Linked DNA regions of Homo sapiens. The protein of the gene in region 4 interacts with the protein of the main gene of each other region in a pairwise test. Each region holds a gene or a part of one and is shown on either strand. Other genes may lie near its edges.

Region 1 (3,500 bases), 1.1 Mb from region 4:
CTCAACAAACAGGACAGAGCCTGGCATAAACAGTAATTATGTGCTGAAGAAATTAAGGCAAGAATGAATGAGTGAATAAATAGAAAAGTTTCATGGGGAAGCCGTGTTTGAAATGAGCATTATACTGGAGCAGGCTTTCTCAGACTGAGGGCTGGGAGTGGGGAGGTAGTGAAACAAGTTGCTCTCAATGGAGGCAGCAGGTGCAAAGGCACAGAGGGATTCCAGGTGCAGCAGGGAGGCAGCTAGAGCAGGCCTGGGGGCAGGGCCATGTGAAACCGGGGTTCTCAAGGTTGAGTATGCATCATAAGCCCCTGGAAAGCTTGCTGAGACACAAATTGTTGGGACCCACCTGCAGAGATTCTGATAGGTCCATCTGAAACAGGAGCTGAAAAGTGCATTTCTCACAAGTTCCCAGGTGATGCTGCTGCCACTGGTCCAGGGCCCACACTTTGAGAACCACTAGTGCAAAGTACAGTCAGTCCTTCACATCCATGGGTTCCACATCCATGGATTCAACCAACTGTAGATCAAAATATTTTTTAAAAAATAGATGATTGCGTTTATACTGAACATGTGGGCTTTTTTCTTGTCATTATTTTCTAAATAACACAATAAATAACAACTATGTACATAGCATTTCCATTGTATTGGGTATCATAAGTAATCTTGAGATGATTTAAAGTATATGGAAGGATGTGTGTGTAGGTTATATGCAAATACTACATCATTTTATATAAGAGACTTGAGCATCCGTGGGGGACTGGAACCAAGACCCCATAGATACCAAAGGACAACTGTACATAGGTTTTCTATAAGCTTTAATTTTGGAGGGTAGGAATTGTTACCTTAAAAGAAGGATATAAATCACTATTTTAAGCCAATATTAGTCCTTTGATACTTAAATGTGAATGAGTTGCAAGTTCTTTATCAACCAGAAGGAGAACTCCAGGCACCAGAGGTGAGAGACAGGAGTGATTAAGAACTGGGAAAGGGAGACACCCTAGTCTGCCTGCTCCCCAGTGTGCCCCAGGCCAAGCTGGAACAGAAATGATTAGCTTTGCTAGTGGGGAATTCAATGAAAATGGCAGGGTTTGGTGGCTTACACCTGTAACCCCAGGACTCTGGGAGGCCAAGATGGGTGGATAATTTGAGGTCAGGAGTTCGAGACCAGCCTGGCCAACATGGTGAAACCCCATCTCTATTAAAAATACAAAAATTAGCTGGGCGCAGTGGCACATGCCTGTAATCCCAGCTACTCAGGAGGCTGAGGCACGAGAATATCTTGAATCTGGGAGGCAGAGGTTGCAGTGAGCAGATATTGTGCCACTGCACTCCAGCCTGGGCAACAAAGCAAGACTCTGTCTCAAAGAAAAAACAAAAAAAGTAATTCAATGAAATGAAACAAAATAAGACAGCCACACTGGAGCAAGGGGAAAGCAGTTATTTTCTTCTCCCATAGCTGGGATTTGGCTCCACCCTGCAGGCTCCCCCTATCAGAGCCTTCAGCTCACCATTTATATATATATATATATATATATATATATATATATATATATATATATATATATATATATATATATATATAAAGGAGTTTCTTGGGTTGAAGGGAGGACACCCCTCATTCCCTACCTGTGGGAGATCCTGAGAGGCTTGGGGATTCAAGTTTGAAAAACCACTCCTCAAGGCTCCATGAAACCCCTAAACTATATCCACAATGTTTATGTTCACGTGTATGTTTTGGGGGAGACGAAACTCTAGAGCCACGCTGCCCAATACGGTAGCCACGGGTGGCCACCATGCTGGACAGTGCAGACAGAGCATTTCCACCGTCACAGGAAGCTCTCTCAGCACTCATCTAGAGCTTTCACCAGCCTTCCAAAGGCATCCATGACCAGAAATTTTAAGAGCTGCTAGGCAAAGCCAGTGAAACTTCATCTAAGGAGCCGGACTCTGCCCTGGAGAGATGAAAGCTTGTCACTGTGACAGAGGCTATGAACAAGTCTGCCTTTGAATAGTCTTTTTGTGCCAAAAATCCCACTCTAAAAACTCTTAGAAGATATCCAGATTTTATGCCTTATTATTTATATCCCCCCACCCTGACCATTGTCCAAAGAGAGGGACATCTTAATTCCACAAATATTTGCTGTAAGAAAGGTTCTCTGAGGTCCCCCAGAGCCTCTGTGCCTAACACAAGTCATGGTGGTAAGTGATCTTGACGCTCCCAGTGACCTTGTCTCCTTTGGTGTGTGTGATCGCTCTAGGTGGGTGAGGCAGTCTTGGAAAATGCCCGGCTCATGCTGCAGACAGAAACTATCCAGGCCGGAGCAGATGACTTTAAAGAGAGGTAATGTCTTACAGCAGAGGCGACAGTCCCTCCACATCCCTAGACTCCTAGGCAAGTGTGGATAATGCTGTTCTGGAGCCTGCATCATCCACCTTCTACCTCAGGGGAAGCTGGCAGGATAACAGAGCCATGATTATCCAGCTCACACCCCTCCTTGTAAACATAAAGTAGGCCCCAAGGGCTCAAAGATTTTGCCCACTGTCAGTTGGTTTAGAGCAGGGTTCTCAAACTCTGGAATGCTCAGAATCACCCAGGGGCCATATAGAAAACAGAGATTGCTGCGCCCCACCCTGTTGAATTTCTGACTCAATGGGTCTGGAGAAGGGCCCCAAATTTATATTCCTAACAAGTTCCCAGGGATGCTGATCCTGCTGGTCCTGGGACTCAAATACTTTGAGAACTACTAGCTTACAGTAATGATTCTCCAACCTGGGCATATCAGAATTACCTGGGCACTTAAAAATGTCAGTGCAGTGCACAAGCCATAGACTAATTAAATCAGAGTCCCCAGGGGTTGGGTCCAGGCTTCAGCAGTTTTAGAGCTCACCAGGTGACTTAATGTGCATCCAGGCTTGAGAACCGTGCTCAGCTACACCTCCCACTCAGTCCCTGAAGGCATCTGGGTTTGCAGCCACTCTCCTGGAGATGGACACTTTTAACATGGGTGCTTTGGAGACAGAAACCACATTTCTTATTTTGGGGTCCCCACCCTGGTGCTTAGCAGGTTGTCAGTAATGTTTGTTAAAGGATCCTTGGTTGAAAAGGAGGACAATCAGGATAGCGATGAAGATGCCGGATCCCCTAACCTGGATCTGAACTCCTGAGTTTTCCCTGGAGTTCTGTGTTGCAACACTCCCATGAGGCTGGTAGCCCGGGAAGCCAGGTTATCAGAAGTTGGCTGCAATTGCCTTCATTTTAATAAATCAATGTGTGACAACTGCACTAACAGTGCCCTCAAATCTATTGAAACAGTGACTTTTACCATTCATTGTCTAACTATCACATAATTGGCCTGTTGGTAACATTTATAATCTGATTCTTTTTCTTTTGGGCTACTCAGTTATGCTAATTAAGTTCCTTTATCTGCAGATATGAAAATGAGCAGCCATTTCGAAAGGCGGCAGAAGAGGAAATTAACTCTCTGTATAAAGTCATT
Region 2 (3,500 bases), on a different chromosome or scaffold from region 4:
TGGGGTCTGAGTGTCTCAGGGTGGGGGAACGGGCATCCCGTGGATCCCAAGGGTCCCTTCTCACTTCCCTTTTCCCTCCCTCTGGTGATTCCAGCAAAAAACCAACCAGGGAATGTGAGTCCCTGTCTGAGCTCAAGGTAACGCCCGCCTGCCTGTGCCGTAGCCTCTGCTGGGGCCTGAGGGGGGCGGGTGGGCAGCTGCAGAGCACGGGGGCATCCCCACCCGGGCAGATGCTCCTTCCAGCCTGGGCTGCTGTGGCCCGGCTCACCGCGGGCCTCCAGACCCAGTATTAGAATGAGGGGCCTCGGGGGCTTGGACCCAATGGTGGGTCATGCATGTGGGCTGGGGCTGCGGGTGCATGGCGCTCCAGCTGGAATGCCTGAGAATGCACCCAGGTCTGAAGATCCTGTGTGGCACCCATGTCTTCTCAGTGCACGTCAATGGTGTTGAAGCTCTGTCACAGGGCCCATGGGTGCCCCCCCGAGTCCGCATGGTCAGCACATAGGTCAGGCATGCTGCACTGTGTGGCTCTTCGCTAGGGGCTCTCCAGCCTCCACTTCTCTTTCTTTGATGTGTTTAGACCTAGAAAATAAGTCCCCTTCCTGCCTGTTGCAAAGTAACGTAAGAGTTCCCTCACCCGAGTGGATGCAGACCTTCTTGCTGTCAGCCACCCTTCCTTCATACACATAGCCAGCCCAGGTGACCAGAACCTCCCAGGACAGATGAGGCTTTGTGTCCTTATGAGACTGGGAGAACCTGCTGGGCACCCCTGCTGCAGGTGCTGTGGTGGGTGGGGACCCCACTGCCCTTCCCACTGAGCACATCATGGCTACCTGACTTGGTGGGAGCTCCAGGCAGTCACTTCTGTTTCTTAAACATAGCTTTACTGAGGTACAATTCACATACCATGTAATTCACCCACGGGAAGTGTATGATTCAGTGGTTTCTAATACAGACTTCTGCAGCCATTACCACCGTCAACTTTACGACATTTTCATCAGCCCAAGAAGACACCCTACACTCCTTAGCTGTCCCCATCCAACTCCCCCACCCCAGTAACCACTCAGAATAGGTATGGATTTGCCTATTCTGGACGTTTCGTATAAATGGCGTCATACACTACGTGGCCTTCTGTGTCTGGCTTCTTTCTCTCAGCATCATGTTTTCAAGGTTCATCCATGCTCTACATGTATTAGTGCTTCATTCCTTTTCATGGCCAAATAAGATTCCATTGTTTGGATGCACCTCACTTTGTTCATCCATTCCTCTGTGGATGGACTTGTCTCCACCTTTTGGCTATCGAATGAAGACTGATGCTATGAACATTTGTGTACAAAGTGTTAGGAGTTGGCTTACGAGATGAAATGGATTGACTAGCAGGCTGGATGCAGTGGCTCACGCCTGTAATCCCAGCACTTTGGGAGGCCGAGGCAGGTGGATCATGAGGTCAGGAGTTTGAGACCAGCCTGGCCAATATGGTGAAACCCCGTCTCTACTAAAAATACAAATATTAGCCGGGCATGGTGGCGCACACTTGTAGTCCCAGCTACTCGGGAGGTGAGGCAGGAGAATCACTTGAACCCAGGAGGTGGAGGTTGCGGTGAGCTGAGATCACGTCATTGCACTCCAGCCTGGGCAACAAGAGCAAAAATCTGTCTCAAAAAAAAAGGCTGGGCGCGGTGGCTCACGCCTGTAATCCCAGCGCTTTGGGAGGCCAAGGCAGGCGAATGACGAGGTCAGGAGATCGAGACCATCCTGGCTAACACAGTGAAACCCCGTCTCTACTAAAAATACAAAAAATTAGCCGGGCGCGGTGGCGGGCGCCTGTAGTCCCAGCTACTCGGGAGGCTGAGGCAGGAGAATGGCGTGAACCCGGGAGGCGGAGCTTGCAGTGAGCCGAGATTGCGCCACAGCACTCCAGCCTGGGCGACAGAGCGAGACTCCGTCTCAAAAAAAAAAGAAAAGAAAAAGAAATGGATTGGCCACCCATCCCGTGGGAGTCAGGGCTTATATGGTAATCTAGGAGGAACACCTGTTTGGGAATTATTTATGCTTTTGAGAGAAACCTTGCCCTCCAGCATAGAGCAGGGAAAATGGCAGTCCTTCAGAACCGGTCTTCAGCAGTCTCAGAAGGCAGACACAGTCCCCAGCTTGTGCCCAGACAGACGCCTGGGCAGCCCCGCCTTGGGTGTGAGCCTCACGGATGATGGAGTGGAAACCCAGCGGGCTGGCCTTTCCTCGGCCTTCCTCCTCTCAATCTCCATTTTAGGGTTTGCCAAACCGGGGCTGCCTCCTGTCTCTGAGCAAGTCTGCTGTTGGTTTCTTTCCTATTTTCTTTCTTTCTTTCTTTCTTTCTTTTTTTTTTTTGAGACAGGGTCTTGCACTGTTGCCCAGGTTGGAGTGTTGGAGTGTAGTGGTGTGATCTCGGCTCACTGCAACCTCTGCCTCCTAGGCTCAAGCGATTCTCCTGCCTCAGCTTCCTGAGTAGCTGGGTTTACAGACATGTGCCACCATGCCCAGCTAATTTTTGTATTTTTTTAGTAGAGATGGGGGTTTCACCATGTTGGCCAGGCTGGTCTTGAACTCCTGACCTCGGGTGATCTGCCTGCCTCAGCCTCCCAAAGTACTGGGATTACAGGCATGAGCCACTGTGCCCGGCCTTCGTTTCAATGAGATCAAAATTGCAAGACACCAGCAGATGGAGACTGGCCCCAAAGGGCTATGCTGCCCCTTCCTTTCTTCACCTGGGATCCCCTGCCCTCAGCCCCCAGCAGGTAGGATGCCTTGGTCATGGGAGCTCACAGAGCTGATTCAGGCACTGGGGGTCTTGGACTGGGGGCCTGCCTGCCGTCTGCAGTAAGACCCAACCCCTACCAACAGGCAACTGCGAGGGCAGAGACTGAGGGCCTGACCTAACGTCTAGTTACAGCGCCCCCCTCCCCAGGGACCTTACCCACATTCTCCATCAGAAACATAGCAAGCCAGACATCACGCTTCCTTTCCCTTGTGTAAGGACAGTCTCCCTCCTGGACAGGAGACACGGATTGTTGTGGGGGAAGGACAGACAGTAACCCATGTGGCATGCCCAGTGACCTCCCTAAGAACAGGGGAGCTGTGTGATGGTGGTGAGGGGATAGGCTCGGGGATTCCCCTCGCACCTGTCACGCCATCCACGCTGTCACACCGGCGGCTCCAGCCTGGGCTCTTCAGGGAAACAAGGGCTCTCCTCCTCCCACTTCCAAGAGGGAAGGGGCCTCCTCTTCTGTCTGAGGTGCTCCTCCCTCAGGGCTGGCTGCAGGAGGGCTGAGGCGGGAGGATCCCTGGAGCAGTTGTCATCTGCCCTTTCTTGAGGGCCAGCTGTGTGCCAGGCCAGGCAGGGGAGGCTCTGATCACCCCCACACACAAGGAACTCAACATCTGGTGACTGAGGACAAGCGTCACAGTCCCTTCCCTGTAAGGGCTCATAGCCTAAGTGGGGGATCGAAGTACCTAAAAACCTG
Region 3 (3,500 bases), on a different chromosome or scaffold from region 4:
CCTTTGGTGTATTCATTTGGTTTCTTTTCTTTGAATAGCATAGCATATCGTCGGGTCATTCGTGTCTATCAGTATGAAGTTGGGGATGATCTGTCTGGAAGGTTTTTCTCCTTATTTCTCTTCTTACCTCACTGTGGCTTTACTGATGCACTCTTGACATCCCCAGGCGGCTCCACCCTGACTAACCTGCCGCCCTCGGCTGCTTGGGAAGGAGGGGTCTGTCCTCCCACTGCACCGGCACCCAGCCTCCTGCCCCCAGGTCCTGGGGGGCATTTTCCCCGGGGGGACATGGCGTGACTGTGAGTCTGACCTGCTGGGGTAGGAGGAAGCCTGGTGCCTTGCCTTGCTAGAGCACTTTGAACCTGGGGAGATTGCAGAGCTAACCCTGGCTCGCCGGGTTTTAAAAGGGTAGGTTGGGGTGAATGTGGGTACAGGGGAGCCTGGGCTAAAACCCCACCAAGGCCACACGCACCGTGTGATTCGTCCCTGCACGTAACCCTAACTCGTTTGTTGTCTTTGTTTACTGGTAGCCTCTGTGACCTGGCACTGTGTTCTCTTGGGAAGGAGGCTCCCCAGAGCCCATCTGCTCTCAGAACTTGGTCCTAGAGAGGAGGCTCCCTCCCTGGCTGTGTCTAGAGGATGGAACCGGGATCTGGGGTTTAGTCACAGCCATCTCTCTCCTTTTGGCACAGTTGGTCGTGATCTCCCAGCACTCCACTTGTGTCCTTTGTCTGCAGGGTCGTGCTCTCATTCCCCCTAGAATGGGGCTCCCTCCCTCAGGAACCTTGCCGGGACACTCCAGGGTTTCTGTGGGGAGGCTGTCAGGTTCTCAGCCTCCCCTCTGCCCTGAGGTCTCCTGTCTGTCAGGTGTCAGGGTGTGCCATCCCCCACATGGCTGCAGAGAGGATGCTCAGACAGGCCTGCAGCCACCCTGCACCCATGGGGGAATTTAAACTCCATTCCTGAGTCATCCTGGCCTTGGGAGCAAGACGAGTGGGCTCAGCCCTGGCCCACACCAAGGCAGCAGCTTCCCATCTCTAAAACGGGAGAAATGCTCCCTGCCATCCCTCGATCCCTGGGGCCCATTAGGTAAAGATGGCCAGTTGCAGTTAGGTTTGGTTTCCTTAAAAGGAATGTGAGGTTGCCAGGCATTGCTCTCTCTGAGAGAAGGTTCATTCTGAGCTCTCGGCCAGCTGGGAGCAGGCCCCTTTCCTCACTGTCCTTCCACGTTTAGGTCCTGTATGGTGGAAGAGTCGGGGACCCTCGAATCCCAGCTTGAAGCTACCAAAGTAAGTGCCCGTGGGGCTCTGGCCCAGCAGAGACCCTTCACCCAGCCACCCCCCAGGGTACCCCTTCCCTTCCTGGCTTAAAGTCAGGAACCAGATGTGCTATTATTGTACCCTTTTCCCTTGGCCTAAAGCAGTCTAGGGCTCTTCACTATCTCTCTCTCTTTTCTTTCTTTCTTCATGGAATCTCTCTCTCGCCCAGGCTGGAGTGCAGTGGTGCGATATTGGCTCACTGCAACCTCCACCTCCCAGGTCAAGCAATTCTCCTGCCTCAGCCTCCCAAATAGCTGTACTACAGATGTGTGCCACCACATTTGGCTAATTTTTGTTTATTTTTAATTATCTTTTGAGATGGAGTTTCACTCTTGTTGCCCAGGCTGGAGTGCAATGGACGTGGTCTTGGCTCACTGCAACCTCCACCTCCTGGGTTCAAGTGATCCTCCTGCCTCAACCTCCCAAGTAGCTGGGATTACAGGCGCCCACCACCACACCTGGGTAATTTTTGTATTTTTAGTAGAGACAGGGTTTCACCATGTTGGCCAGGCAGGCTGGTCTCGAACTCCTGACCTCGGCTGATCTGCCCGCCTCGGCCTCCCAAAGTGCTGGGATTACAAGCGTGAGCCACCACATCTGGCCTAGTTTTTATATTTTTAGTAGAGACAGTGTTTTGCCTTGTTGGCCAGGCCGGTCTGGAACTCCTGATCTCCAGTGATCTGTCCACCTCAGCCTCCCAAAGTGCTGGGATTACAAGCATGAGCCACCACTCCCGGCCGAGGGCTCTTCACTTTAAAGAAAGTCTTTGGGGCTGGGTGTGGTGACTTACACCTGTAATCCCAGCACTTTGGGAAGCCGAGGCGGGTGGATTGCTTGAAGTCAGGAGTTCGAGACCAGCCTGGCCAACATGGGGAAACCCCATCTCTACTAAAAATACAAAATATTAGCTGGGTGTGGTGGCAGGCACCTGTAATCCCAGCTACTCAGGAGGCTGAGGCAGGAGAATCACTTGATTCTGGGATGCGGAGGTTGCAGTGACCCGAGATCAGGCCATTGCACTCCAGCCTGGGTGACAAGAGCAAAACTCCCTCTGAAAAAAATTACTTGGGCATGGTGGCCTACACCTGCTCAAAGTCCAGCATGGGCAATATATAGCAAGACCTTGTCTTAAAAATAAGGCTGGGTGCAGTGGCTCATGCCTATAATCCCAGAACTTTGGGAGGCCAAGACAGGCAGATCACTTGAGCCTAGGAATTCAAGACCAGCCTGGTCAATGCAGTGAAACATCGCCTCTACTAAAAATACAAAAATTAGGCAGGTGTGGTGATGGGCACCTGTTAGTTCCAGCTACTCAGGAGATTGAGGCAGGAGAATCACTTGAACCCGGGAGGTTGCAGTGAGCGTGATTGCGCCACTGCACTCTAGCCTAGGCGACAGTGAGACTCCATCTCAAAAAAATTTATAAAAATCTTTGGCCACTGCTTCCTGGAGTCCTCGCCGTACTTGTCCTTGGCGTGCACTGCCCTCTGGCAGGTCTACCAGCTGCTTTGGAACCCTCACATTGAAAGTCTCTCCCTCTATTGAGGTGGTTGGGATTTCTTCAGCTTCACCCCATCCCACTATTCCTATTCTAGAATGTTCTTGTTTTACGAGGTCTCAGGCCAGGCCTGGAGCAGGAACCAGAGGGCAGTAAGTGGCTCCTGGGCTGGTGACTGAGCTGAGGGCCCCCGTCTGAGCATCTGTGCTCCCCACCCCTGCAGCGCAAGCACCAGGAAATCCGAGCCATGAGAAGTCAGCTCAAAAAGATCGAGGACCTGGGGGCCGCCATGGAGGAGGCCCTCATCCTGGACAACAAGTACACGGAGCACAGCACCGTGGGCCTCGCCCAGCAGTGGGACCAGCTGGACCAGCTGGGCATGCGCATGCAGCACAACCTGGAGCAGCAGATCCAGGCCAGGTACCCGGGAGGGCTGTGGGCCAGGCTCAGCCCAGAGCAGGGGGAGGAAAAGACACAGTCACCTGCTGTGTGGAGGGTCTGTTCCCTAATTTCTGTTTTTCTTCCAGGAACACAACAGGTGTGACTGAGGAGGCCCTCAAAGAATTCAGCATGATGTTTAAGTGAGTTCAGCCTTACTCGCCCTGGCTGGGTGGGGGGTGTTCGGCAGCAGGGCTGCCTGCTGAGCCGCCCTCGGCTTTGTGCTGCAGACACTTTGACAAGGA
Region 4 (3,500 bases):
AATCTCGGCTCACTGCAACCTCCAACTCCCTGGTTCAAGTGATTCTCCTGCCTCAGCCTCCCGATCCCGAGTAGCTGGGATTACAGGCACGCGCCACCACGCCCAGCTAATTTTTGTATTTTTAGTAGAGACGGGTTTCACCATGTTGGCAAGGATGGTCTCAATCTCCTGACCTCATGATCCGCCCACCTCAGCCTCTCAAAGTGCGGGATTACAGGCGTGATCCACTGCACCCGGCCAATTTTTGTATTTTTTATAAAGACAGGGTTTCGCCATGTTTCCAGGCTGATCTCGAACTCCTGAGCTCAAGCGATCTGCCTGCCTCAGCCTCCCATAGTGTTAGGATTACAGGCGTGAGCCACCACTCCCAGCCTCTCAATTCTTTCTTACCCCTTCGCAATATATATATATATATTTTAGTGAGCCAATGCTTTATGTTTTTATGGAAATAATAGTTTCATTTTAGTCTTATTCATTGATTATTTTATCATTTCCCTTTTACCTATTGATTGATAGTCTGTGTTTCTAGGCTCAGCTTGTCAATCGGAAACAGAAATTAGAGTCTGTGGAACTTTCTAGCCAATCAGAAATTCAACACTTAAGCAGTAAACTGGAGCGGGCTAATGACACTATCTGTGCCAATGAGTTGGAAATAGAGCGCCTCACCATGAGGGTCAATGACTTGGTTGGAACCAGTATGACTGTCCTACAGGAGCAGCAGCAAAAAGAAGAAAAATTGAGGGAATCTGAAAAACTATTAGAGGTATGTTTTAAAATCACTATAATTGGGGGAAGTGTGTGTATGAGTATTTTAAGAGAGTGTTATTAAGCTAGAACTAGGTTCTACAATCCATACTTTCTTCCCTACTTTATAAATGATGGATCAGATATTGATAGTTTTACTAATATTGTGACTTTATTACAATATTTACAATATTGTAATATTGTTACGTAACTTATAGTCTGACTTCCTGGCTTCTCGTGAAATAGAAAAATTGTAATAATAGCTGGCTTAGAAATTTCTGAGTATTTTGCAGGTTCTGCAGGAATTAAAAAGAAGGAAAATTATAATCATATTTGACTTTTTTGCAGGCTCTGCAGGAAGAAAAGAGAGAATTGAAGGCAGCTCTTCAGTCTCAAGAAAATCTCATACATGAGGCCAGAATACAAAAGGAGAAGTTACAAGAAAAAGTAAAGGCAACTAACACTCAACATGCTGTAGAAGCTATAAGGTAAATTTAATCTTAAATATTATTCATCTTAGCCACTTAATGACTAGGTATTAAGCACTAGGCTTATTTTTATTTTTATTTTTATTTTATTTTCAGATAGTCTCCTGTTGCCCAGACTGGAGTGCAGTGGTGCAATCTCAGCTCACTGCAACCTCAACCTCCGAGGTTCAAGCCATTCTCCAGGCTCAGCCTCCCAAGTAGCTGGGACTACAGGTGCATGCTACCACACCTGGCTAGTTTTTTGTATTTTTAGAGACGGGCATTCATCATGTTGGCTAGGCCGGTCTTAAATTCCTAACCTCAGGTGATCTGCCCACCTCAGCCTCCCAAAGTGCTGGGATTACAGGTGTGAGCTGCCACGCCCATCCAAGCACTAGTTTTCATATTGCATATTCATAATTTTATGTTTGATCATATTGTGGATTTTCTTAATTGGCTTTAACTTCTGAGTTAGGTTTTTAAAGTGTTATAAAATTTTGTGTGGTTAATTTTCTTCTGCCACCAGTTAGGGTCCCTAACAGAGACTCTCATGTTTAGAAAGTTAGAAACCAAGGTCAGTTTGCATGCTTGGTGAAAATCCAAATGTGCAGGGAATTGTCATCCATGTCTCCTGGAGGCCTCACTTTGTTGGTGGAATAAGTTGTGATTAGTAGCTGCTTATCATTAATAGCAGCCAGCCATTGGGCTAGCCCTCTTGCTTGATTTAAGTCTGATGCACACTTTTATTTTTGCCAGAATTCTCCTGTAACTTTTCAGTTTTTTTGGTACAGGGTTTCAAGTGTCACTGAAGTGATTTTGCCATTTTGTCTTTTTCCCTTGAAAAAAGGCCAAATCCCAGTTAAGAAGGGAGTAAATTGCTACTTTTTGAAGTATCAGCATCTCTTGACTCTTTCTTTCCTCTCCCAATATTCTTTTTATAAAGCAGGAGACAAACTTGAAGAGTTCCAAAGAGGTTACCAAAAATGATGGGGAAACACAGACTAGATGAGCATTATTTTTGTTTGCAGAGATAAAGGCGTTAACAATCATCCTATGTCTTTCCATAGGCCACGGGAAGAATCTCTGGCAGAAAAGAAGTACACCTCTCAAGGGCAGGGGGACTTAGACAGTGTGCTCTCCCAGTTGAATTTTACCCATACTAGTGAGGACCTTCTGCAGGCAGAGGTGACTTGTCTTGAAGGCAGGTACATAATTATACACACATTTCAAAAATTTCAAGTTGTTAAAATGAATTTTTGATCATCATATTGTAAATGAATGTAATAGTCATAGTAAAAAAAATAAGATTTTTTTCTAGTATCCACAAATGGCCTAAGTTCTTATTTCTTTTTTTTTTTTTTTGAGACGGAGTCCGCTCTGTCACCCAGACTGGAGTGCAATGGCACAATCTCAGCTCACTGCAACCTCCGCCTCCCGGTTCAATTGATTCTTCTGCCCCAGCCTCCTGAGTAGCTGAGATTACAGGCGTGCACCACCATGCCTGGCTAATTTTTATATTTTTGTAGAGACGGTGTTTCACCATGTTGGCCAGGCTGGTCTTGAACTCCTGACCTCAGGTGATCCACCTGCCTTGGCCTCCCAAAGTGCTGGGATTACAGGCATGAGTCACCGCACCCTGCCCTAAGTTCTTATTTCATTGAGAAGACAGAAGCAATTAAAGGAGAACCTCTTAATCTTTCTGTCATCAAATCTACCAGTCTGCCCATACCTGTGCCTTTCTGCACTTCTAAGACCAACCACTCCACTTGTGTCCTTTTTCTGTAGTTATATCCTTTCTCTTCTGCATCATCAAGTTCTTTCTGTCTGCTGAATCTATCCACTGGTATAAAATACGCTGTAACATCACCCATCTGGGGGAAAAACCATCCCTTAATCCTATGTCTCCGTCAAGTTATTTCCACATTTCTGTACTTCTCTTTAAGACCAAATTCTTCAAAAGAGTTGTCTATACTGACTCTACTTCTTTACCTTTCACCTGTTTAGCAGCCCTTCACTTAGGTTTTCCTCCTTGCCACCTCAGAAGCAGGGTAGGAAGGGGTAACAGTTGACACATGGTGATCCTTTTTGTTCTGCTGTGGTGTTGTTACTTCCTTGGGTGTTAATTGAATCCTGACTAATGCTATACCATACCCACCTAAACACTTGTCATTGTCGTACTTATAGAATTTTTTTTGGTTTTTCATAACCTCTCAACTTTTTGATTGGGAAGAGTGTGATATCTTGTTTTAAACACATGAATCATGATCATTTGTACACTGACATTTTCTG

Evidence for each region.
Region 1: the proteins of CEP63 (region 4) and BFSP2 interact in binary tests that used the Homo sapiens proteins (3 or more experiments, as listed by UniProt).
Region 2: the proteins of CEP63 (region 4) and CAMKK2 interact in a two-hybrid assay, tested with the Homo sapiens proteins (2 studies listed by BioGRID and IntAct).
Region 3: the proteins of CEP63 (region 4) and SPTAN1 interact in a two-hybrid assay, tested with the Homo sapiens proteins (2 studies listed by BioGRID and IntAct).

Annotation. Positions count from the first base shown.
Region 1 is NC_000003.12:133,445,056-133,448,555, forward strand, and holds part of BFSP2 (phakinin), read left to right. Parts: intron 1-349; exon of another isoform or gene 350-520; intron 521-2,261; coding exon 2,262-2,344; intron 2,345-3,433; coding exon 3,434-3,500.
Region 2 is NC_000012.12:121,241,210-121,244,709, reverse strand, and holds part of CAMKK2 (calcium/calmodulin-dependent protein kinase kinase 2), read left to right. Parts: intron 1-94; coding exon 95-137; intron 138-580; coding exon of another isoform or gene 581-586; exon of another isoform or gene 587-1,122; intron 1,123-3,500. UniProt on the Homo sapiens protein: Calcium/calmodulin-dependent protein kinase belonging to a proposed calcium-triggered signaling cascade involved in a number of cellular processes. Isoform 1, isoform 2 and isoform 3 phosphorylate CAMK1 and CAMK4. Isoform 3 phosphorylates CAMK1D.
Region 3 is NC_000009.12:128,629,087-128,632,586, forward strand, and holds part of SPTAN1 (spectrin alpha chain, non-erythrocytic 1), read left to right. Parts: intron 1-38; coding exon of another isoform or gene 39-101; intron 102-1,234; coding exon 1,235-1,289; intron 1,290-3,040; coding exon 3,041-3,237; intron 3,238-3,344; coding exon 3,345-3,398; intron 3,399-3,485; coding exon 3,486-3,500. UniProt on the Homo sapiens protein: Fodrin, which seems to be involved in secretion, interacts with calmodulin in a calcium-dependent manner and is thus candidate for the calcium-dependent movement of the cytoskeleton at the membrane.
Region 4 is NC_000003.12:134,545,057-134,548,556, forward strand, and holds part of CEP63 (centrosomal protein of 63 kDa), read left to right. Parts: intron 1-529; coding exon 530-763; intron 764-1,092; coding exon 1,093-1,232; intron 1,233-2,278; coding exon 2,279-2,416; intron 2,417-3,500. UniProt on the Homo sapiens protein: Required for normal spindle assembly.